Homo sapiens: one gene and its partners. The protein of the gene in region 1 purifies or fractionates together with the protein of each later gene. This does not show direct contact. Each region holds a gene or a part of one and is shown in the gene's direction. Other genes may lie near its edges.

Region 1 (7,890 bases):
ATCTTGGCTCACTGGAAGCTCCGCCTCCCGGGTTCACGCCATTCTCCTGCCTCAGCCTCCTGAGTAGCTGGGACTACAGGCGCCGGCCACCACGCCCAGCTAATTTTTTGTATTATTAGTAGAGACGGGGTTTCACTGTGTTAGCCAGGATGGTCTCGATCTCCTGACCTCATGATCCACCCGCCTCTGCCTCCCAAAGTGCTGGGATTACAGGCATGCGCCACCACACCCGGCTAATTTTGTATTTCTAGTAGAGACAAGGTTTCTCCATGTTGGTCAGGCTGGTCTCGAACTCCCAACCTCGGGTGATCCGCCCGTCTCGGCCTCCCAAAGTGTTGGGATTACAGGCGTCAGCCACCGCCCCCGGCATATATATATATATATATATATATATATATATATATATATATATATATGTATTTTTTTAAAATAGAGATGGAAAAATAACTATTTACCAAAATCAATAAATATGTCGTGAGAATAATGGCATTGTTTTACAGGGGGGTTGGGGGGAGACACTGTTTTTCTCTCCTCTCACACCACCACAACAATCAACAAAGAAGGCTACTGTGTGACCAAATGTGTTGGTTTTTTCCCCAGTCCACAAGCAAGCAGTTCCAGCTGGGTGTCCTCTTGTTTAATGCCAACACTGTCTACCTGGAGATAACCTCAGATCTCAAATGTTTAGGGTGCAGATCTCAAGACCGCCCTCCCCACCGGCCCCCCGGTACTAGTTTCTTTTCTCTCCTTTTTTCTTTTATTTCTTTTCTTTTCCTTCCTTTTCTTTTCCTTTCTCCTTCCTTCCTTCCTTCCTTCCTTCCTTCCTTCCTTCCTTCCTTTCTTTCCTTTCTTTCTATTTCTTTCTTTGTCTCTTTATTTGTCTCTCTCTGTCTCTCTCTTTCTTTTCTCTCTCTCTTTTCCCCTTTTTCTTTTCTTCTTTCTCTCTCTTGTCTCTCTCTTTCCCCTGCCTCCCTCCCTCCCTCCCTTCCTTTTTTTTTTTTTTTAAATCAAATTATTGTTTACCAGACATGGCCCCTGACTTCTGATGCTAGTCAAAAGCCCCAGGCTGTTTTACCTATGCCTCTGACTGACCAGCTGTAAATCTAGGCCCCCACAACTCTACTTGGGCTTGGTTAACTTGCTAGGGTGGCTCATAGAAATCAGGGAAACACCTACTTACCTTTACTGGTTTATTATAGAGGCTATTTGAAAGGATGCAGATGAAGAGGTGCCTAGGGTGAGGTATGGGGGAAGGGATGTGGAGCTTCCGAGCCCTCTTCCGGTGTGCCACCTTCCAGGAACCTCCAGGTGTTCAGCTATGTGGAATCTCTGAACCCAGTCCTTTTGGATTTTTGTGGATGCTTCATTATGCAAGCATGACTGCTGAAACGATTGGCCATTGGTGATCAACTCAACAGTTCAGCACCCCCTCCACTCCCCAGAAGTTGGGGGTGGGCTGAAAACCCCAACCTTCCAATCATGCCCTGCTCTTTATGGTGACCAGCCCCCATCCGGAAGCTACCTAGGGCCTGCCAGCCATCAGTTAACATTAGCATACCAAAAAAATCACTTTAGAGATTTAGGAGTTGTATGGCAGAAAATAGGGTCAAAGAAACGTATATTTCACAATATCACACTGTTTCGATAGGAGACAGCTCGATTTTCACATCTGCTTCTATTAGCTATTAGGATATATTGTTTTGATTGAAATACATGAAGAAAATTTGGTCTCACACAGACATGTAACTAGAAGAGCACTTCACCAATCCCCTGAAAGGTTCTTTTGGGGACCACAACTTCAGAATTGCTGTTCTGAGCTTTCAGGCTCTACGTGCACACACTTTGAGGAGCAGACACAACAATCCTTGTCATTGCTTTGGTGTCTTTTTTATCCAAAGTTTCAGTCTCAGGCAGTAGAGTTTACAGTAGTGAAGAATGCGACTTTCCCAGGTGTGAGGGCTCACACTTGTTATCCCAACACTTTGGGAGACAAAAGCAAGAGGATCACTTGAGGCCAGAAGTTCAAGACTAGCCTGGTCAACAGAGTAAGACCCACATCTCTGCAAAAAATAAAAAATTACCCGCGCATGGTGACCCATACCTGTAGCTGGGGAATGCAATGAGCACTCCAGCCTGGCAGCCTGGGTGACAGAATGAGACCCTTTCTCAAGAAAAAAAAAAGGTGGGGCCGGGCGCAGTGGCTCAGGCCTGTAATCCCAGCATTTTGGGAGGCTGAGGCAGATGGATTACCTAAGGTCAGAAGTTCGAGACCAGCCTGGCCAACATGGTGAAACCTGGTCTCTACTAAAAATACAAAAAAAAAAAAAATTAGCTGGGCGTGGTGGTGGGCGCCTGTAATCCCAGCTACTTGGGAGGCTGAGGCAGGAGAATCACTTGAATCTGGGAGGCGGAGGTTGCAGCGAGCCGAGATTGCACCACTAAGTTCCAGCCTAGGCGACAGAGTGAGACTCCAACTCAAAAAAAAAAAGAAAGAAAGAAAAAAGAAAAAAAAAAGGAACACAAGCTTTGGAGCAGGTCAGCTATTCATACCCAAATACCTCCCCTTAATCTTTTTCTGGCTTATGTATAAGGTAGGAATAATAATAGTATCAGTGTCAACCTAAAATAATCCGACGGGTCAGAACCTAATTTAGAGTTTTTTCAAGTGCGAAGTATGAGAATGGAACACCTGGAACCACCAACTCCAGAAGAATGGAGTCAGTGTTGTGAAGTAAGAAAGTTAAGATTTCATTTATATAGGCAAGCACACATGACTTTTTAGCAGGATTACATTTTTCACAGAAGATTGGTACATAGTTATAGCAATTTGGTTGGCTATAGACAATGTTTCTTTTTGGGAAGTATACATGTAACTTTTTTTTTCCAATTTTTTTTTATTTGGAGTTTCGCACTGTTGCCTGGGCTGGAGTGCAGTGTCAAGATCTTGCCTAACTGCAACCTCCGCCTCCCGGGTTCAAGACATTCTTCTGCCTCAGCCTCTGGAGTAGCTGGGATTACAGGCACCTGCCACCACACACGGCTAATTTTTTGTATTTTTAGTAGAGATGGGTTTTCACTATTTTGGCCAGGCTGGTCTTGAACTTCTGATCTCGTGATTTGCATGTAACTTTTTTTTTTTTTTTTTTTTTTTTTTTTTTTTTTTTTGAGAGGGAGTCAGCCGGGCGCGGTGGCTCACGCCTGTAATCCCAGCACTTTGGGAGGCCGAGGTGGGCGGATCACCTGAGGTCGGGAGTTCGAGACCAGCCTGACCAACATGGAGAAACCCCGTCTCTATTAAAAAAAAAAAAAGAGAGAGGGAGTCTTGCTCTGCATCCCAGGCTGAAGTGCAGTGGAGCGATCTCGGCTCTTTGCAATCTCAGCTTCCCGGGTTCAAGCAATTGTCCTGCCCCAGCCTCCCCAGTAGCCGAGTAGCCGGGATTACAGGCATGAGCCACCAGTGCCCGGCGCATGTAACATTTTTTAACAGAGGATGAAATAGTCATGGATTTCCTACACTTCAGCCTGGGCGACACAGCAAGACTCCGTCTCAAAAAAAAAAAAAAAAAAAAAAAGAGTTAATCTATAATCTGAGAACAGAAGTTGTAAACTATATGTGACTCGCAGTCATATCTCTCTCGAGGCTTAAAGTGTTTTTTGGGCTTCCAATAGCTCTTAAATTTTTTTTTTTTTTTGAGACTCCGTCTTGCTTTGTCGCCAGGCTGGAGTGCAGTGGCGCGATCTCAACTCACTGCACCCTCCGCCTCCCGGGTTCAAGCGATTCTCCTGCCTCAGCCTCCTGAGTAGCTGGGACTACAGACGCCTGCCACCACGCCCGGCCAATTTTTTGTATTTTTAGTAGAGACGGGGTTTCGCCATGTTAGCCAGGATGGTCTCAATCTCCTGACCTCATGATCTGCCCGCCTCGGCCTCTCAAAGTGCTGGTATTACAGGCGTAAACCACAGCGCCCGGCCTAAATTTCATTATTTTCTGTAGCTTCTTGGCCTTTTGGCTAAGGCTCGTAAACATTTTTTTTTTATTTCTACACCAATTTCTGTAGATTATTATGAGAATTAAGGGAGAGAATTATATCAAGCGCTTAGCACAGTGTCTGGCATCTAGGAAGAAAGTAGTAAGTGATAGCATTTATTTATTTATTTATTTTATTTATTGAGATGGAGTTTCGCTCTTGTTGCCCAGGCATCTAGGAAGAAAGCAGTAAGTGGTAGCATTTATCAATCTATCTATCTATCTATCTATCTATCTATTATCTATCTATCTATCTATCTATCTATCTATCTATCTATCTATCTATCTATCTGTTGAGATGGAGTTTCGCTCTTGTTGCCCAGGCTGGAGTTCAGTGGCAAGATCTCGGGCCGCCTCCCAGGTTCAAGCAATTCAGATAGTTGCCGACCGGGCGCGGTGGCTCACTCCTGTAATCCCAACACTTTGGGAGGCCGAGGTGGGTGGATCACCTGAGGTTGGGAGTTTGAGACCAGCCTGACCAACATGGAGAAACCCCATCTCTACTAAAAATACAAAATTAGTCAGGTGTGGTGGCACATGCCTTTAATCCCAGCTACTCGGGAGGATGAGGCAGGAGAATCGCTTGAACCCGGGAGGCGGAGGTTGCAGTGAGCCGAGATCGCGCCACTGCACTCCAGCCTGGGCAACAGAGGGAGACTCCGCCTCAAAAAAAAAAGTTGTCGTTTGATGGCTGGGGGGCGGGGGTGAGGGGCGGGGCTTAGTGGTTCTCGCCCACGACGGCGAGGCCCAATCAGACCCGCGGAGCTGGTGGAGTTCCGCCCTCGCGGAGGAGGTGGTGTTCCGCCCTCCTAGTCGCAGCAAGCGCGGAACTGGGGTTGCGGCGTCTAAGTGTTTCCGGTGGATTCCCAGGGACTGTCGGAGGTGTGGACTCTGCCTGCCTACCTGGTCTGGGAAGATGTTCTACCATGTGAGCAGGGCTCAGGGTGGCGGCAAGGGCTGGGTGGAAAGGAAGAGCAAGGCCAGGCGCCGGCGCGAGACTCCCCTTGTCGTCCAATAACCTGCCAGCGCCTGGCCTGGTCGCCATCCCACTTTTCTCCGCAGATCTCCCTAGAGCACGAAATCCTGCTGCACCCGCGCTACTTCGGCCCCAACTTGCTCAACACGGTGAAGCAGAAGCTCTTCACCGAGGTGGAGGGGACCTGCACAGGGAAGTGAGTGTCGAGCTCACCGCACCGCCAGATCGTTCGATGCGCACACGGGGCGCTATACCTGCAACCCCTCCCCAACTCCTACTCGTCCTGCCACCCACTCTGGGGACCCCTCTCCTCTCTCAGGCAGCCAGTTGCTTCCTGCTTTGGGTTCCCAGGGCGCCCTCTGCAATGCTGGACAATAAGACTTCCTTCTCTCAGCTGAGATGGGTCATTCATTGACTCCTCAAACATTTTAAAAACCCTTGGTGTGTGCCAGGACCCGTGTTGGGCTCAGAACAAGGTAGAATGGGAACAAGATAGAATGAGGACAGCCCCTGTGGAGCTCACAGTGTAATCATTGTTCCTGTGTCTGCTCTCCCTCTGTCATTCTGCTGGTTTTCTCTTATCCCCTGTGCCCAGGGACCACACACCATGGGCCTCTATATATCTTCTGAATGAATGACCAGAAAAAGCAGATCGAGAGTTTGGGGGAGGAAGGAAGTAGCCTGGGATTTGACCATCTCTGGGCTTTGCACAGAGGGGCCTCTCTGATATTAATGAGCTGGGACCCAGCTCAGGGCAGTGGAGTACTTGGGCCTCCAGCATCAGAAAAACCTGCAGGAACATGCAGATTCCTGAGCCTCCTTATTCCCTACAGAATCAAGACTGTCTGGGGCAGACCTGAGAATCTGCATTTTAAGAAGATGATTCTCAGGCATCCCGAAGATTGAGATCTGTTGCCTCAAGGACTCCAGCCTTCTTGGACATTTATTGTGAAATTACCAGAACAGCATTTGGTCTTACACATACTGATCTCTGTTCTGTCTTCTTTTGGTCATTAAGCTCTCTGGGAGCAGAGGTGCTATCTACTTGTCCTTTTGCTCTCCCCGACCCTACCCCCAAGAGCTCAGCGACTTTTATTGCAGATGTCTTTAGAGGCTCTTGGACACACAGTGTCTTCCTGTTTCTCATCCTCCTTGCAGGTATGGCTTTGTAATTGCTGTCACCACCATTGACAATATTGGTGCTGGTGTGATCCAGCCAGGCCGAGGCTTTGTCCTTTATCCAGTTAAGTACAAGGCCATTGTTTTCCGGCCATTTAAAGGGGAGGTCGTGGATGCTGTTGTCACTCAGGTCAACAAGGTGAGACCATACATAGGGGAGGCAGTGGGGTAGTCTCTCGGAAGATCTGGGTTGGGTTCTGGCTCCACTTCATAACTCTGTGCCTTTGGCTAAGTCACTTCACTTTTTTTTTTTTTTTTTTTTTTTGAGAGAGTTTTGCTCTGTTGCCCAGGCTGGAGTGCAGTGGTGCGATCTTGGCCACTGCCACCTCTGCCTCCTAGGTTCAAGTGATTCTCCTGCCTCGGCCTCCCAAGTAGTTGGGACTAAAGGCACGTGCCACCATGGCCGGCTATTTTTTTTTTTTTTTGAGACGGAGTCTCGCTTTGTCACCCAGGCTGGTGTGCAGTGGCGAGATCTCCACTCACTGCAAGCTCCGCCTCCCGGGTTCACACCATTCTCCTGCCTCAGCCTCCCAAGTAGCTGGGTCTACAGGTGCCCACCACCACGCCCGGCTAATTTTTTGTATTTTTAGTACAGACGGGGTTTCACTGTGTTAGCCAGGATGGTCTCGATCTCCTGACCTCGTGATCCACCCGCCTCGGCCTCCCAAAGTGCTGGGATTGCAGGCTTGAGCCACCGCGCCCGGCCTGCACTTTCAAATTATATGGTAATCTTGCCCTGCCTAACTCAGAGGGCAAGAGAGTCAGTATTAATAGTCATAACAATAAAAGCCTGTGTTGATTGAGTAGTTACTATGGGCTAGGTGATGTGCAGAGACTCACAATGACTCTAAAAGGTGGGTTTTTTTTTTTTTTTGAGACGGAGTCTAGCTCTGTTGCCAGGCTGGAGTGCAGTGGCGCAATCTCGGCTCGCTGCAACCTCCGCCTCTGGGTTCAAGCGATTCCCCTGCCTCAGCCTCCCAACTAGCTGGGACTATAGGCATGCGCCACCATGCCCAGCTAATTTTTGTATTTTTAGTAGAGATGGGGTTTCTCCATGTTGGTCAGGCTGGTCTCGAACTCCCGACCTCAGGTGATCTGCCTGGCTCAGCCACCCAAAGTGCTGGGATTATAGGCGTGAGCCACCGTGCCCGGCCAGTGGGTGCTTTTTACAGAAGCTGAAGCTTGGAAGAAATTAAGTGTACTGGCCAAGATCATGTGGCCAACAGGTGTTCAAATCTTGGACTAACACGTCCCAGGCCTAAGCTCTTTAATACTTTAAAATGAAAGCTTAGGCTGGGCGCGGTGACTCACATCTGTAATCCCAGCACTTTGGGAGGCTGAGGTGGGCAGATCACCTGAGGGTGGGAGTTCAAGACCAGCCTGGCCAATATGGTGAAACCCCATCTCTACTAAAAATACAAAAATTAGCCAGGCATTGTGGCATGTGCGTGTAGTCCCTGCTACTCGGGAGGCTGAGGCATGAGAATCACTTGAACCTGGGAGGTGGAGGTTGCAGTGAGCTGAGATTGCATCACTGCACTCCAGAGTGGAGAACAGAGTGAGATTCTGTCTCAAAGTAAATATGTAAATAAATACAAATGAAAGCTTAAAAAAAAAGAGAAAAGGGCTGGGTGCGCTGGCTCACACCTATAATCCCAGTGCTTTGGGGGGCAGAAGTGGGAAGATTGCTTGAGCCTAGGAGTTTGAG
Region 2 (7,024 bases), on another chromosome or scaffold:
TTCAGTAATAAAGTAAATCCTCTACTCTCCTTTTGAAAAGGCTACTAACAGTTTTTCAGAGCAGTTGGAGCTTTTCTTTTCGTCGTGCACCCTTTCAGCCCAGGGTGTTGAAAATCTCTCCGAAGCGCAGTGTGTGCATGATTGTTCCAGCTTACTCTCACTGCATTGTGGGTAAAGTGAAGGACTGTGTCTTACTCTCGCACAGCAGTCATAGTGAGCAGTCTCCTCAGCAGGTGATTCGGTTCCCATCTGCCTGGGACACTCGTTCTGTGGAGGTATGAGCTTTATCTTCCTGTGCAGCACGCAAGCTTCTTGGGGATGTTTCCTGTCTTGTCTTCTCCCTCTAGAGCAGAAGCATTAGGCACACTTTCTACCTGCTGCTTAAACTGACTGAACCCTAGCATCCATCTTGGACCTGTGCCTGAGGAGCTACATTTGAGCCCCATTTTACCAAGAAGCCTTTGTGACCACTTTATGCCCAAGAGTTCAGTCGTGGAATATTCTAATGCAGAACTTTGGAGAGTGGAAGAATCACAGGTGGCTTGAGATGCTACTCAGTAGAACTGTGAGGAACACAGATGTTAAGTGATGATTAACAAACTTAGCTTTTAGAGGAAAGGTCCGACGAATAGTAGACGGTGTACTGCATCCTCATGGCAAGTAAAATAACCGCACAGGGCAGGGCTTGCTAGCTGCAGGTGAATGCCCTGTGTTCAGACCAGGGAGAGGCCTGAGAAGGTCCCGCAGCAAAGAGGGACTTGAACTAGCCCTGGCCGCGTGTGTCAGTGCCTCCAGCTGCCAGGCTCTGAGCGGGAAACGTCCTTGGGAGCTGCTTTCTTTTTCACAGCTCTTCAGGCAACAGAGACCAAGGGAGAGGTGACCGAGGCACTCTGCAGAGAGACACAGCAAGAAAGATCATTTTCCCACCTAAGAATTGGAAGGTTGGATGTTGCTTACCTTGGTTTGCCTGCAGATTTCTTGTCCACAGGGTGGGATTGGGAACTGGTGTATGCACCCCATAAAGCTCCTTCCAGATCTAAGTTCAGATCCTAGAAGGGACAGCAGAGACTAATGTCAATTGTTCTAGAAGGGGTTTTTTTTTTTTAATATATCTTTGCAAGGTACATTGTGTGAAGTTTCTCAACTAACAAAATTCTAAACCAAGGTGTATGCTTTGTTAGTTTGTGTGGCACCCTGTCAGAGAGTTCTGCTTCTCCCCAACAGCCTTGTGAGTGGGGGAGCCAGTCTCCCCTTTTGCAGGTGCAGAAGCCAGCAGCATCAGGTAATAGGTGCTGCTCAGTGGGTGTCTCCAGGGGCAAGCAGAGGATAAAATGCTTTTGTTTCTTACTGACTTAATGGGAGGTGGTGGAACCAAAGTTAGGGACTTACCCAGAGTCATTAAGTGACAGTCCTTAGAGTCCTTTCAACTCTGAACACCACCACGCTGCCTTGAAAGTTGGAGAGATGGCTCCGGAAGAGGCACGAGGGGGCAGCATTTTTGAGCTGGTAAGAAAACGTGTGAGGATCCTGTAACGTCCCCTACAAGTGTATGTGAGATTACAGATTGGGGCTGGATTTACCTATGTTACATCTAACAGGGTGGTGATATGACATAGCCTGTCCCGTGAACATCTTAAGGTCTCTGTCACAGACAGAAACCTGGGCCAGACCACGGTGTGGCAACTAGCAACCGATGTGGAACTTTTCATGAATCTGTGTGACCAGTTTGCTCTCTACTTCAACATTACAGCACTTTTGATATTAACTTAAAATGCCATTTATTCTGCAGAAAAGCAGAATGGTGTAAATTGCAAAATGAAGGACTCTTGATTCTGACCCTATCCAAAATAGTAGAGGACCCTAAACCCAAACATGTAAATGCCACCTGATCCACAATTGCCCAGATTCAGGGACTCTCCTGTCTTTACTCTGTATATTGTGGCCAGGACACAGGAGAGGAGCAGCGTGGTGTTCTCTGACTTCGGGAAATGGAAAGGTAGCAAGTATCACCTGTGACACAGGTGTATGTCCTTGTCTTTGACTCATTCTGTCCCTCAGGAGAAAGTGGACTTTACAGTCTCTCCTCACTGAGGTTTCTGGGTGGTCCTCAGAATATGTTGTCCTGGTTGGAGGTCCCAGAGCCCTGGAGGACTGTCCAAGACCAGCATGTGGTCAGGGGCTTTGTTCTGGATACAGATGTAAAAAGGCACCATGGTCACGTCAGCCCCTGGGCAGCTGTGTAAGATAGGACATGTAGCTTAAGGGCGCCAAGGTCTCTTAGGTGAAGGAGGACACTTGGCTTTCCTTTTCTTGGTTTTGGGGTCTGCGAGCATCTTCTCAGATGGAGCTCTAGTTTAACCAGGCTGACTCCAGGTGACTCCAGTCCAGCGGGAGGGGTCCCCTGGCCACTTCCCCACTATCATCTCCTTCTGGAAACTGGGTGCTTTGTTACTGCACGTTGTGCTTTTCCTTTGTATTCCTAGTGGTAGGCTGTCCCACGTCTGCCTGGTTCCTTTGGGGACCAGGAGCTGGTTGTCAGAATGGGTGGCCAAGTTTGTGGCACAGTGAGTAAAGGAGAGGCAGCACATTTCATTCCAGTGTGGTCTCGCTAGCACCCATGCTTGGAGCACCTTCCAAAACAGCCGCTTTTCACTCTTAGAGCAGGGTGTGGATTTGCCATCGGGATTCCCTGAACCGGGAAGCATTTCCTGAGTAAGAAAGACATACCGATAATTCTACATGCTGTATTTAAAGGCCTTCTCTGAATACATTCCATGCCTTGGGAGGCACTGCAGTTACATTTCAGTCACTAACTGATTAGCAAGTGCTCGTGTGCTGGGTGTAGAGGGTACAGACCTGAAGATGCTCAGCCCCTGTGCCCAAGGGGCTTGGCGCCTCATAGGGAGGAGGGCAGATAGAGCATGGTCATGAACGAGCTTGGGTGGGGTGCCGTGGCATGTGGGCTCGGCAGTCAGGGATGGCCTGATGGTGCCGCAGGTCTCAAGTCCAAATGGAACAGTTCTCCCCGTGCCTTATTTGAAAACAGTTGAGAATTCTTAAGAATATGAGATGGCTTTCTTAAGTATATTCTATCATCCAGGTTTTCAGAATAAGTTCTGTAGTCAGGCAGGCAGGCTCTTCTTGCGTTGTCTCTGGCATGAGGGGAACAGAGCTGGAAGGAACAGTCGGCAAATTATTGCACAGTTTTCCCTCTCTGCTGTGGGATGGGGCACAGGCAGATGTCGAGCTGTGTCTGTGGGTATGGTTGGGGTGTCTGGGCTTGAGAAAATGGGAAGGGCCTTGGGGTAGCATTACATGGCACTGGTTTTCAGTATTTGGGGTGTTGTTGTACCCTCTGGATTAGATTTGCTCTGTGTGGCTTTTGGAGGCAAGCCTAGGGTGGGGAAGGTGAGAGTTCTGTGATGTGCTTAGGGAAGTGGTGGATTATTGTCAGAGCTGACTTAACACAGTCTGGGGGCACTGTGAGATGGCTATGTGGACATACCCAGGCCCTTGGATTCTGTGTATAGGCCTTTGGATTCTGTGACCATCCAAGTACCGGGAGGTTCTGCGATTCTCTGTGGAGCCTATTCAAAAGGAGAGGGGTCATGTCAGGTGAAGTACCAGCAGCCCTCTGGGAACTCACATCCCAAGGATTGCCAGGCAATTGGGGTTAAAGGCCTTTGGATGTTACTGTGACTGCAGCAAAGTTTCCTGGGTTCATCCACTGCAGGAAAATGAATCTTGGAAAACGTCAGGGGGCTCATCAGGTTTCCCCTGCATGCAGAGTTAGGCTCGGTCTCCTGTGTGCCAGCAGCAGTCTCTGTTGGGCAGCAGAGGCTGCAAGACGAACAGCCGCTGTTTACTGAGCACTTACACAGTGCCAGACACTACTGTGTGGAGTGTCTCATTGCTTCTTTGAATTACTTCTAGGGTAGGTGCTTCATCTTCATTTTAGGGGCTAGGAGAGATTCACCGATTTGTCTGGTATTGCAGACAAGGGAACCAGAAGCCTTGGGTCTGAATCCATCACTGGGTGGTTCTGATGTCAGAGGGCTTAACTACGACAGTCTTCCGCTTCCCACATCGGTGGTGCCCAGCATGGAAGCTGAACTCCATTGCGTCTTCCAAGGTGTACCCTTGCAAACATGAAGTGTTTTCACATGTTACATTTTGAATTCCATTCCTTCCCAGTTCCTACAACTTTTCCCCCTTTAAATTCCTCTAGCCTAGTGGCTCCAAACCTTTTTGAGTATGAGGGTTCATTTTTATCATCAGAAACCTTCTGGAAGCTTCACATAACAACAGGTGTGCTTTGAGTAACTGTTTTAAAGAAAATTCGAGGACAGAACCTACTCCTAATCCAGTCATGCTTCGAAATGAAGTTCTGTCTTGTCATCAAAACAGCATCAGTGTAACTCTGAGAGCAGGCCTTACCTGTATGTGTGTGACACCTGGAATTTGACCTTTGTGCTGCCTCCAGTTGGGAGCCTCCTGTCATCCCTACTGCCTCCCTTTTCTGAAACCTTACCTGGCTTAATCCAAGACCGTCTCCCTCAGGAACCATTCATCATTTTAACACCTTATATTCCTGCTGATAACAGGTCTTGTTGGTTACATTTTCCATGTGATTGTGAAGTGCCCAAGTAGGAGAGCAGGTGTTGCTCCCTTAGTGTCTAGAACTGCCACAGCACGTGGGTGCCCAAATGCTTGGTGCTCTCACTGTAAACAGGGCCAGTTTTGGGAATGGCTGTCAGCGTTACTGAGCAGGTCCTAGGTGCCAGCGGTTTTCAGCACTTCACCTGCATTCAAAACACATTTAATCTTCATAGCAGGTGTAGATTAAACAGGAGGCAGGTACTAGTGAGGAAACTGAGGCTCAGCGGACACAGCTGGAAGGAGGCTAGATGGGATGAGGCTGGGGTTGGAACACAGCCACCTGCTGGCTGCCTCCCTTGTCATGTGAGAGGCCAGTGGGCACTTGCTGCGCAGGCACTCCCCTTTCTTGCCTGGGTCCAGCTGTTTATGCTGGATTCATCTGTGCACTGCTCTTATGCCAGACTGGGAGGACAGTGGTCACTAAAATGCTCTGTGCTTTCTCTGGAACTGGCTGAAGAAGGGGTGTGAGGTGTGTTTTCCTCTCTTTCTCGTCAGGTATTTTTCACCCTAATAGAGAAGGCGGCGCTTGATCTTAGATTTCTGCCTGTCCATGGTCCCTAGACACTGTTCAAATGTCACTTCATCTGTGAAGCCTGGGTCCCCAGCGATCCTTCGGCCTTTTTTGGTCATGTGACAAAACATGGCATTCCTGGACACACATCCCCCCAGATTTTCATTTGCTATGGTGAGAAAGTAGGGTGCTGCTTTGTCCAGGCCACACCCTGGTGGTGGGTCAGCCTCGTGGCTGCTGTGGAGACTCGGGTATTCGTGTGCTGGGTGCACAGCATGGTTTTATAGGGCGTTGGCTGTGGCTGGCCTTGACTCTGGTGGGGGTTCTGTGGTGCAGGCATCAGCAGTGGGTGAGTTACTGGGAGGACTCAGGTGGGTGTGACCCATGGCCCACACCGAGAGCCCAGTGGGCTGGCAGCACTCCCAGGCCCTGGCAGCCCCACTGCCTGCTTGTGCCTTCAGCACGGTAGTGCACTCTTCTGTTTCCCACCCACACTCCTGGTCACATTGGCTCTCTGGGCAGCCCCCTGCACACACTGGGTTTAAGTTCTTATCCCCTTGATGACTTGTTTTGATGTCCCCCGTTCTAGTCATCAGGTTCCTGGCCCAGCTTGAGTTAGGCATGGAGAGGTGGCCACATCCTCGTTCCCCCCAGGGTGATGTAGTAGTTACCATGGTAGCTAACGGCTCTCCTGTTCTGCAGGCCAGCCCTCCAGAACCCTTTATAGATGCTGCCCAACTCCATTCACCTCCCAGGTGCATCTTGCATGGTGCCTAGGCAAGCAGTCAGCAAGCTGGCTTTTCAGTGCTGTCAGTGGGAGACCCGTGATACTGATGTGAAGGGATATAAAATAAGAACAGTTTTATCCTTTTGGGTGGTCATTGGTTCACATTGTTTCCTTCCGTGTTAATTGGTTGCCTGCACAGCACTTGTCTTTACTTCCTATACTAATTCTGTGGCCTGTCCAGCCCTAAAGGGAGGTTAGCACTGTGCTGGTGGCAGGAGCTTAGACACAAAGGGGCTGATGGTCATGCAGGCCCAAAGGCAAGTCTGCGGTCAGGTGAGGACCTGGTTTTTCTGTCTCCCTCTTTTGCAGTGTTGCCTTCACACAGTAGGGTGTCTTCCTCTCCATCCCAGCAGTTTCAGGATTTTCCCTCACCGAACTCCCGACTCTTTGCTGGAAGCCCCACCAAACGTTTCCTTATGCCTTCTCTGAGCTTTGATTGGATTAGCAGTTTGATTGAATTAGTTGATTGGCTTACCCCTGAATCTGCTGTGGGTTCCACCCAAACAGTCCCACAATAGAGGGGATGTTCCCAGGAGACATCAAGGTCCTGTTAACGGGAGAAGAATAGTGGATCCAGTGTCCATGGATGTGCACTGATGTCATCACCTCTCCTGATGTGACCGCCAAATAGTTGGGCCTTGGCTCCAGAAGGCAAAATGGGAGTTTTTGGGGAAAAAAATGGGAAATGTAAGGTCCAGAGTAGCAACAGGGTGGTTTGGCTGGTGTGAGGTCACCGCGTGGAGTTGTGAGTACCTTCTTGTTCTGGTTAAACCACAGACTCCATTTGCCTGTAGTCACCCTTGGGGACCTCGCTGTCACGCTGTCCGAGTGCAGGTGCTGGCCAGCTGCAGCTTCAGATCCTGTCCTGGGCTGGAGACAGTCTTGAATGGTGCTGTTTTTTCCTCCCTGTCTTGACAGTCTCTCCTGGTGCTTCAGTCACTGCCTGGAATGGAGCTCATTGCTGGGGGAGGTGGTGCGGTCCAGGTGGCCTGAACCCCACCAGGCCTCCTGTGGTCATGAGGAGACTGCGCTGTGACCCAGGCAAGAGCTGTGGCCCCTCCTGTAGC
Region 3 (7,024 bases), on another chromosome or scaffold:
AGAGAAGTAGACTATGAGAAGGTGATCAGTATGGTCAGACACTTCAAATTTAATATTTGTGACAGCTAATAAAAATCCAAAAGACCTGGGTTATTTTCTTGACCTGTTCTTTGCCTGTGGTATTACCCCGAAGCTGGGATGGGGGTATTTGGGAGTGGGATGGACTAGCAGTCATGGAATGGAAAGATGATGGGGCATTTTACTTGTGATAAATATTTGTCATTCTTTAGGTTTTCTTTGTCACCTACTTCCATAAGAGTGTTTTATAATCACTGGTTTTTATACTCTGATGTTAGGCCATGAGACAGGCTGTTAACATTTTGACAAGAGATAACAACTTGACATTGACAGATCAAAGTCTTCAGCTTCTCAGATCCTTGGATTGTGCCCCAAGATGGTATTGGAGTGCTGCTGATGTGGCTGTGTTGCTTTAGTTCAGCCTGTTTATTCTTTGTTGTCCTAAGATTGCAAATGTTCAGTAGGTGATTGAGGGATTCAGTAGGTGATAGTGCCTGTGAGGTATGCCACCCTGGAGAGGGCTCTGTGATTTTGTGTTGAAATCGGAATTTGTTGTCATTGACATCTTTTTCTTTTAGGTGATGAAATTTATTGAGAAGGCCCAGAACATGTCCAAGTAAGTGATGTCAGTAACACCCATTTATTACTCTGTAGCTGACATATTTCTAGGCTTCATGGAGGATCTGGGATACCATCAGCCTCTGAAAGAATATAGATTGAGATGAAACCATTAGGAGTGAAAAAAAAATTGGCAAATCATTAAGATGCTTTAGAATATAGAGCTAAATTTAATATCATTTCATCCTCAATTACTTTGATCCCCAATTTACATGGCTTCTTAGGAGCTCTTTTGAGACTTTGTCCCAATTCAGTTGTCCACCTGCCTTCTCTTGGGAAACCATGCTTGTTGTCATTAAAGTATCTGAAATACCTTTCTAATTCTTATTTAAATGAATATAGTCTACATGGTTCAGAGAAAATTTTTTAATTTACAGAGTGTCAGAATAGGAAATATTTGTTCTTATGGCCATTACCCAGTTAGCTGTTGTTCAAGGTTTACTTTTTTTAAAAAAGATAATTTATTGTTTTATAAAAATTCAAACCATGCATGATATTTATAAGATGAAACCATCACCCCGATTCCCACTAGAAGTAACATCATCATTCAGCGACTAGCATTCCACATTTCTATATACACAGATAGAAGGATGAATGGATAAAAGTGCTTTTACAAAAATGGGGTACTAGAGGTAGCTTTTGTTTTGTTTTGAGACAGGGTCTTGCTCTGTCGCCCAGGCTGGAGTACAGTGTAGTGATCTCAGCTCACTGTAACTTCCACCTCCCTGGCTCAGGTGATCCTCCCACCTCAGCCTCCCAAGTAGCTGGGACTACAGGTGTGAGCCACCACACCTGGCTAATTTTTGTATTTTTGTATTTTTGGGATGGAGTCTCGCTCTATTGCCTAGGCTGGAGTGCAGTGGTGTGATCTTGGCTCACTGCAATCTTTGCATCCCGGGTTCAAGCGATTCTCCTGCCTCAGCCTCCTGAGTAGCTGGGATTACAGGTGGCCTGCTACCATGCCTGACTAATTTTTGTATTTTTAGTAGAGATGGGGTTTCACCATGTTGGCCAGACTGGTCTCAAACTCCTAACCTCAAGTGATCTGCCCGGCTTAACCTCCCAAAGTGCTGGAACTATAGGTGTGAGCCACTGAGCCTGGCCTGGAGGTATTTTTTTTTTTTTAATGACAGCTTTATTAAGATATAATTCATATACCATAAAGTTCACTCGTTTAAAGTGTATGGTTGTTTTAGTCTGTCCACAGAGTCGTGTGTTGATAATTACTATCTTCAGAATATTTTTGTCATCCTGAAAAGAAACCCCATACTCATTACCAATCACTCCTTATTTTCTGTTCCCTTTAGCCCCTAGTGACTACCCCATTTTCCATTCCCATTGGCAATATGATTTCTCCACAACCAGTTCCTCCATAACCTTGCCAACTTTTGTTATTCTTCTTGTTTTTGATTATAGCCATTCTAGTGGATATAGAGTGGTATCTCATTGTGGTTTTTACTTTTATTTTCTTAATAACTAATGATATTGAACATCTTTTTAATGTACTTATTGGCCATTGGTATGTATATATTTAGAGAAATGTCTATTAGAATTCTTTGCCAATTAAAAAAATTCTGATATAATTCATAATTATATCAAATTAATTCACAAAAAAGTTGATATAGTTCATAAAAACAGCTTTATTGAGATAATTCACATACCATACAATTCACCCATTTAAGGTATACAATTCAGTGGCTTTTAGTATATTCACAGAATTGTACAACTATCACCACAGTCAATTTTAGAATATTTTCATCATCTCAAGAAGTAACCTGATATTCTTCAGCTAGCACTTTCCCATTCCTCCCATTCTTCTTCCTCTGTTCCACACTCACCCCCGCCCTAAGCAACCAGATGTTTCCCAAGAGATTTACATTCTGGTTTTGTGTCTTTCATTTTAAATGCATTGTGTTTCTATAAAAGTTTCCCCTGTGATCATTTGCAGCAACTCATGGTCTGCTGTTCCTGCCCATTGGCGTGAATATTGGTCATTGAACAAAGTCTAGGGGATCATCATGTGCAGTTTAGGGCCAGTAGGAGGAAGTTAGATTTGGCAGTGTGCAGAGGTTACTCCAGTCTTGGATAACCAGATGTTTATTGTCTTATATGATGGAATATCCTTCAGCATAACACAAATGTAACACTTCTTTAATGATCTTTCTTGACATAGATATGTGTTGATTGACACACCTGGACAGATTGAGGTATTCACCTGGTCAGCTTCTGGGACAATTATCACTGAAGCCCTTGTGAGTATTCTAGGACTTGCTACTGAGAGTAGCTAGAGGGGCTAGACTGGATGAGCATTTATTTTTAATTGCCTTGGACTTTATATGGGAGGAAGTTGTAGAAGCTCTGCACACCCTGCCTAAAGTGGTTTTCCCTTGTTAAGGATGGTGGAAAAAGAGTTTGAGGACAGATCGTGAGCCCTCTGACCAAGGCTTTGATTTTTTTGTGGCTTTAGGCATCCTCATTTCCAACAGTTGTCATCTATGTAATGGACACATCGAGAAGTACCAACCCAGTGACCTTCATGTCCAACATGCTCTATGCCTGCAGGTAATTGATTGTTGGTGGGGAAAGTGTTCCATCAAGGTATAAGGCCTTTTTCTCTTCTTCTTCCTCTTTTTTTTTTTTTTTTGAATCTGGTTGCTTACCCCTGGATTTGTGCTCATTCAGATTTGCTGTTCAGTTGAGTGGCTGTGAGCTGGGGAAGGTCAGAGGAGAAAAGAGGCACATGTGCTGTTGGCATTCTCTCTCAATACCCTCTGATCTTCCTCCCTTGTTGTTACAAAAAGGTGATGTATGAATATGAACTGTCTGATAGTTGTTCCCAGTTGGATAAAATCCAAGTTTAAAGATAAAGTCCTCTGGGCTGGGTCTGTCATCCCTACACTTGGGAGGCCAAGGTGGGAGGATCGTTTGAGCTTGGGAGTTTGAAACCAGGCTGGGGAACATAGCAAGACTCTGTCTCTACAAAAAATGTTTTAAAATTAGCCAGCGTGGTGGCACGCCCTTGTAGTCCCAGCTACTTGGGAGGCTGACGTGGGAGGATTGCTTGAGCTCAGGTGGTTGAGGCTGTAGTGAGCCATGATTGTGCCACTGCACTCCGGCTTGGGGCAACAAGAGCCTGGGGCAACGAGAGAGAGAGAGAAGAATAGAGTCCTCTGGCCTAAATGATGCTGGTAGAGTGAAATTGTAACATGAGGAGATACCATGAATAAGAAGATTTATCCATAATTGTAAAATGCACAGGTGGCCAGGCATGGTGGCTCATGCCTATAATCCCAGCACTTGGGGAGGCTGTGGTGGGAGGATCGCCTGAGCCCAGGAGTTTGAGACCAGCCTGGGCACCATGGTGAAACCCCATCTCTACAAAATATACAAAAAATTAGCCAGGGATGGTGGTGTGTGCCTGTAATCCCCGCTACCTGGGAGGCAGAGGTGGAAGGATTGCTTGAGCCTGGGAGGCCAAGGTTGGAGTGAGCTGTGATGATGTCACTGTACTCCAGGCTGGGCAACAGAGTGAGACCCTGTCTCAAAAAAATAAAATGCACTGGTTTGCCCCAAATGTGGCACCATTAGCAGAGGAAGGGCATGCCTCACTAGATTAGTGCATTAAGACTGAGGAGCAAGGCTGACAGTTATTAAAGCTGAGAGAATTTAATTTTGAGGGTACACAAATGCCATCACCAACATTTGTCTTTTCTGATATGACAAGGGATGTCCCTTTTTGGTGGATGCAAGAAATTGTGATCCAAATAGAAATCTGAAGATTGACAGCATTATTTCATTTTCATATTAATTATTTATTTATTTATTTATTTATATTTTTTCGAGACGGAGTCTTGCTCTGTCACCCAGGCTGGAGTACAGTGGCACAATCTCACCGTACTGCAATTTCCGCCTACTGGGTTCAGGTGATTCTCCTGCCTCAGCTTCCTGAGTAGTCACCACACTTGGCTAATTTTGTATTTTTAGTAGAGTCGGGGTTTCACCTTGTTGGCCAGGCTGGTCTCAAACTCCTGACCTCAAGTGATCTGCCCGCCTTGGCCTCCCAAAGTGCTGGGAATACAGGCATGAGCCACTGTGCCTGGCCCATTTTCATATTAATTGTTTAAAAGAAAATTATTTGATTTGCCTGATAGTGTTAATCATTTCTTTTTAAAAAAATTAATTAATTTATTTTTAGAGGTGGGGTCTCGCCATGCTGCCCAGGCTGGTTTTGAACTCGTGGGCTCAGGCAGTCCTCCCAGCGTGGCCTCCCAAAGTGCTCAGATTACAGGCATGAGTCACACCCCCAGCTGGTAATCATTTCATGATGAAACATACAGTTGATCCTTGAACAATTTGGGGGTTAGAGGCGCCAACCCCTGCAGAGACCAGCCGGGGCACCATGGTGAAACCCCATCTCTACAAAATATAAAACTTTGACTCCCCCCAAACTTAATTACTAAAGGCCTACTGTTGATTGGAAACCTTGCTGGTAACATAAACAGTAGATTAACACACATTACATATATATTATATGTATTATATGCTGTATTCATATAATAAAGCTAGAGAAAATAAGGGGAAGATATATTAACTGTTCATTAAGTGAAGTAGATCGTCATAAAACTCTTCATCCTAATCGTCTTCACTTTGAGTAGTCTAAGAGTAGGGGTTGGGTTTTGCTGTCTCTGGGTGGCAGAGGTGGAAGAAAAGGTGCATATGAGTAAACCTTGCAGTTCAAACCTATGTTGTTTAAGGGTCAACTGTGTATCAAAATATCCCTTTGTACACCTTAAATATATATAATTTTTATTTGTCAACTATACCTCAATAAAGGTAGGGGTAGAAACATTTTTAAGATGTTACTTTACAGATTGAAAAAAATTTTAATATTCTTTTCCCAGCCTTATTGAGGTATAATTGACAAATAAAAATTGTATATATTTACATGTTATTTGTAAAGAATAAAGGAGATAATACTTATGAAAGTGCTTATTAGCACAGTGCCTAGACTATACAGATTGAGCATCCCTTATCCAAAAATTTGAAATCTGAAATGCTCCAAAATGTGAGACATTCTAGACACTGACATGACACTCAGAGGAAATGGTTATTGGAGGATTTTGGATTTTCAGATTTGGGATGCTCAACCAATAAGTATTTACAAATATTCCAAAATCTGAAATAAAAAACACTTCTGGTCCCAAGTATTTTAGATAGGAAATTCTCAACCTGTAATAGGTATTCAGTAAATGTTCATTTCCTTCTCTGAAAAATACCAATTTGGTTAAAAAACAAAACAAAAACAAGTTCAATATTAAGGCATTATTACTTCAAACAAGAGTGAGAGTGTGTGTGTTGCTTCTGGGTGGTAGTTGTTTTCCTGTTGGCAGAGACTATATGATGTTATGTAAAAATGGATGACTACTTTTTAGATTCTGAACTCATTTCTGTTCTCTTACTTAGTCCCGACATGCTGACACTGGATGAGCAAGAGCTTATGTGCTTTTACTAATAACTTCTCAATGTTTGGTTTTCAGCATCTTATACAAAACCAAGCTGCCTTTCATTGTGGTCATGAATAAAGTAAGTGTATTCTTCCTGTTGTGATTCACCATTTTTCATCAGAACCTTGTGGTTAGAAGGTTTAGGTGGGTGAGAAAGATTATTTCAGATGCTGGAGACCAGATTCAGGCTTTACTGAAACAAATTCATAGGCACTTCGAGAAAATGAATCAATCAAATTGAATGAGCAATTATTACCAACTCTTGTCTAAAATTATTTTAGGCTAGGTAGAGTAGCACTTCAACCACAGTATGTAGATTATCCCTCAGAGTCAAGATTGTGTAATTACGAGAGGGACAACTAGTCTACTGGAAGTGGCAATTAAAAAATTCTAAACTTCTCTGTTGGTTGATGGCTAGGATGCAAGAGACCTTTTGACTTCAGAGCCTAGAATGTGCTGGTGTCCATTCTGGTCCTGGTACTTGGCAGTGGATAGTGGAGGGTCAACCAAGAGAATACACATCTTCATTTAATTACACTGACTACACAATGATTGTGGTTCTTTGTGGCTTGTTGCAATGGAGGGGAAATAGAAGCAGAGAAAGAAAATATATGGATGATATGTTCTTTGCTGTCAACACTTAATTAAAAGAATAAATTTTGCGTTTGTTGGCTCTGGTTGCTCATAATTGACTTCTCTCTGGTACAGACTGACATCATTGACCACAGCTTTGCAGTGGAATGGATGCAGGATTTTGAGGCTTTCCAAGATGCCTTGAATCAAGAGACTACATACGTCAGTAACCTGACTCGTTCAATGAGCCTGGTGTTAGATGAGTTTTACAGCTCACTCAGGGTAAATTTTCTCTCCTGCTCACACTGACA

What was found.
Region 2: the proteins of POLR2G (region 1) and MED26 purify together in Homo sapiens (affinity purification with mass spectrometry; 8 studies listed by BioGRID and IntAct, with this or other methods). This does not show direct contact.
Region 3: the proteins of POLR2G (region 1) and GPN1 purify together in Homo sapiens (affinity purification with mass spectrometry; 6 studies listed by BioGRID and IntAct, with this or other methods). This does not show direct contact.

Annotation. Positions count from the first base shown.
Region 1 is NC_000011.10:62,756,706-62,764,595, forward strand, and holds the start of POLR2G (DNA-directed RNA polymerase II subunit RPB7), read left to right. Parts: upstream 1-4,874; 5' UTR 4,875-4,943; coding exon 4,944-4,955; intron 4,956-5,089; coding exon 5,090-5,199; intron 5,200-6,161; coding exon 6,162-6,321; intron 6,322-7,890. UniProt on the Homo sapiens protein: Core component of RNA polymerase II (Pol II), a DNA-dependent RNA polymerase which synthesizes mRNA precursors and many functional non-coding RNAs using the four ribonucleoside triphosphates as substrates.
Region 2 is NC_000019.10:16,618,194-16,625,217, reverse strand, and holds part of MED26 (mediator of RNA polymerase II transcription subunit 26), read left to right. Parts: intron 1-7,024. UniProt on the Homo sapiens protein: Component of the Mediator complex, a coactivator involved in the regulated transcription of nearly all RNA polymerase II-dependent genes.
Region 3 is NC_000002.12:27,632,037-27,639,060, forward strand, and holds part of GPN1 (GPN-loop GTPase 1), read left to right. Parts: intron 1-596; coding exon 597-634; intron 635-2,809; coding exon 2,810-2,888; intron 2,889-3,103; coding exon 3,104-3,198; intron 3,199-6,173; coding exon 6,174-6,219; intron 6,220-6,848; coding exon 6,849-6,995; intron 6,996-7,024. UniProt on the Homo sapiens protein: Small GTPase required for proper nuclear import of RNA polymerase II (RNAPII). May act at an RNAP assembly step prior to nuclear import.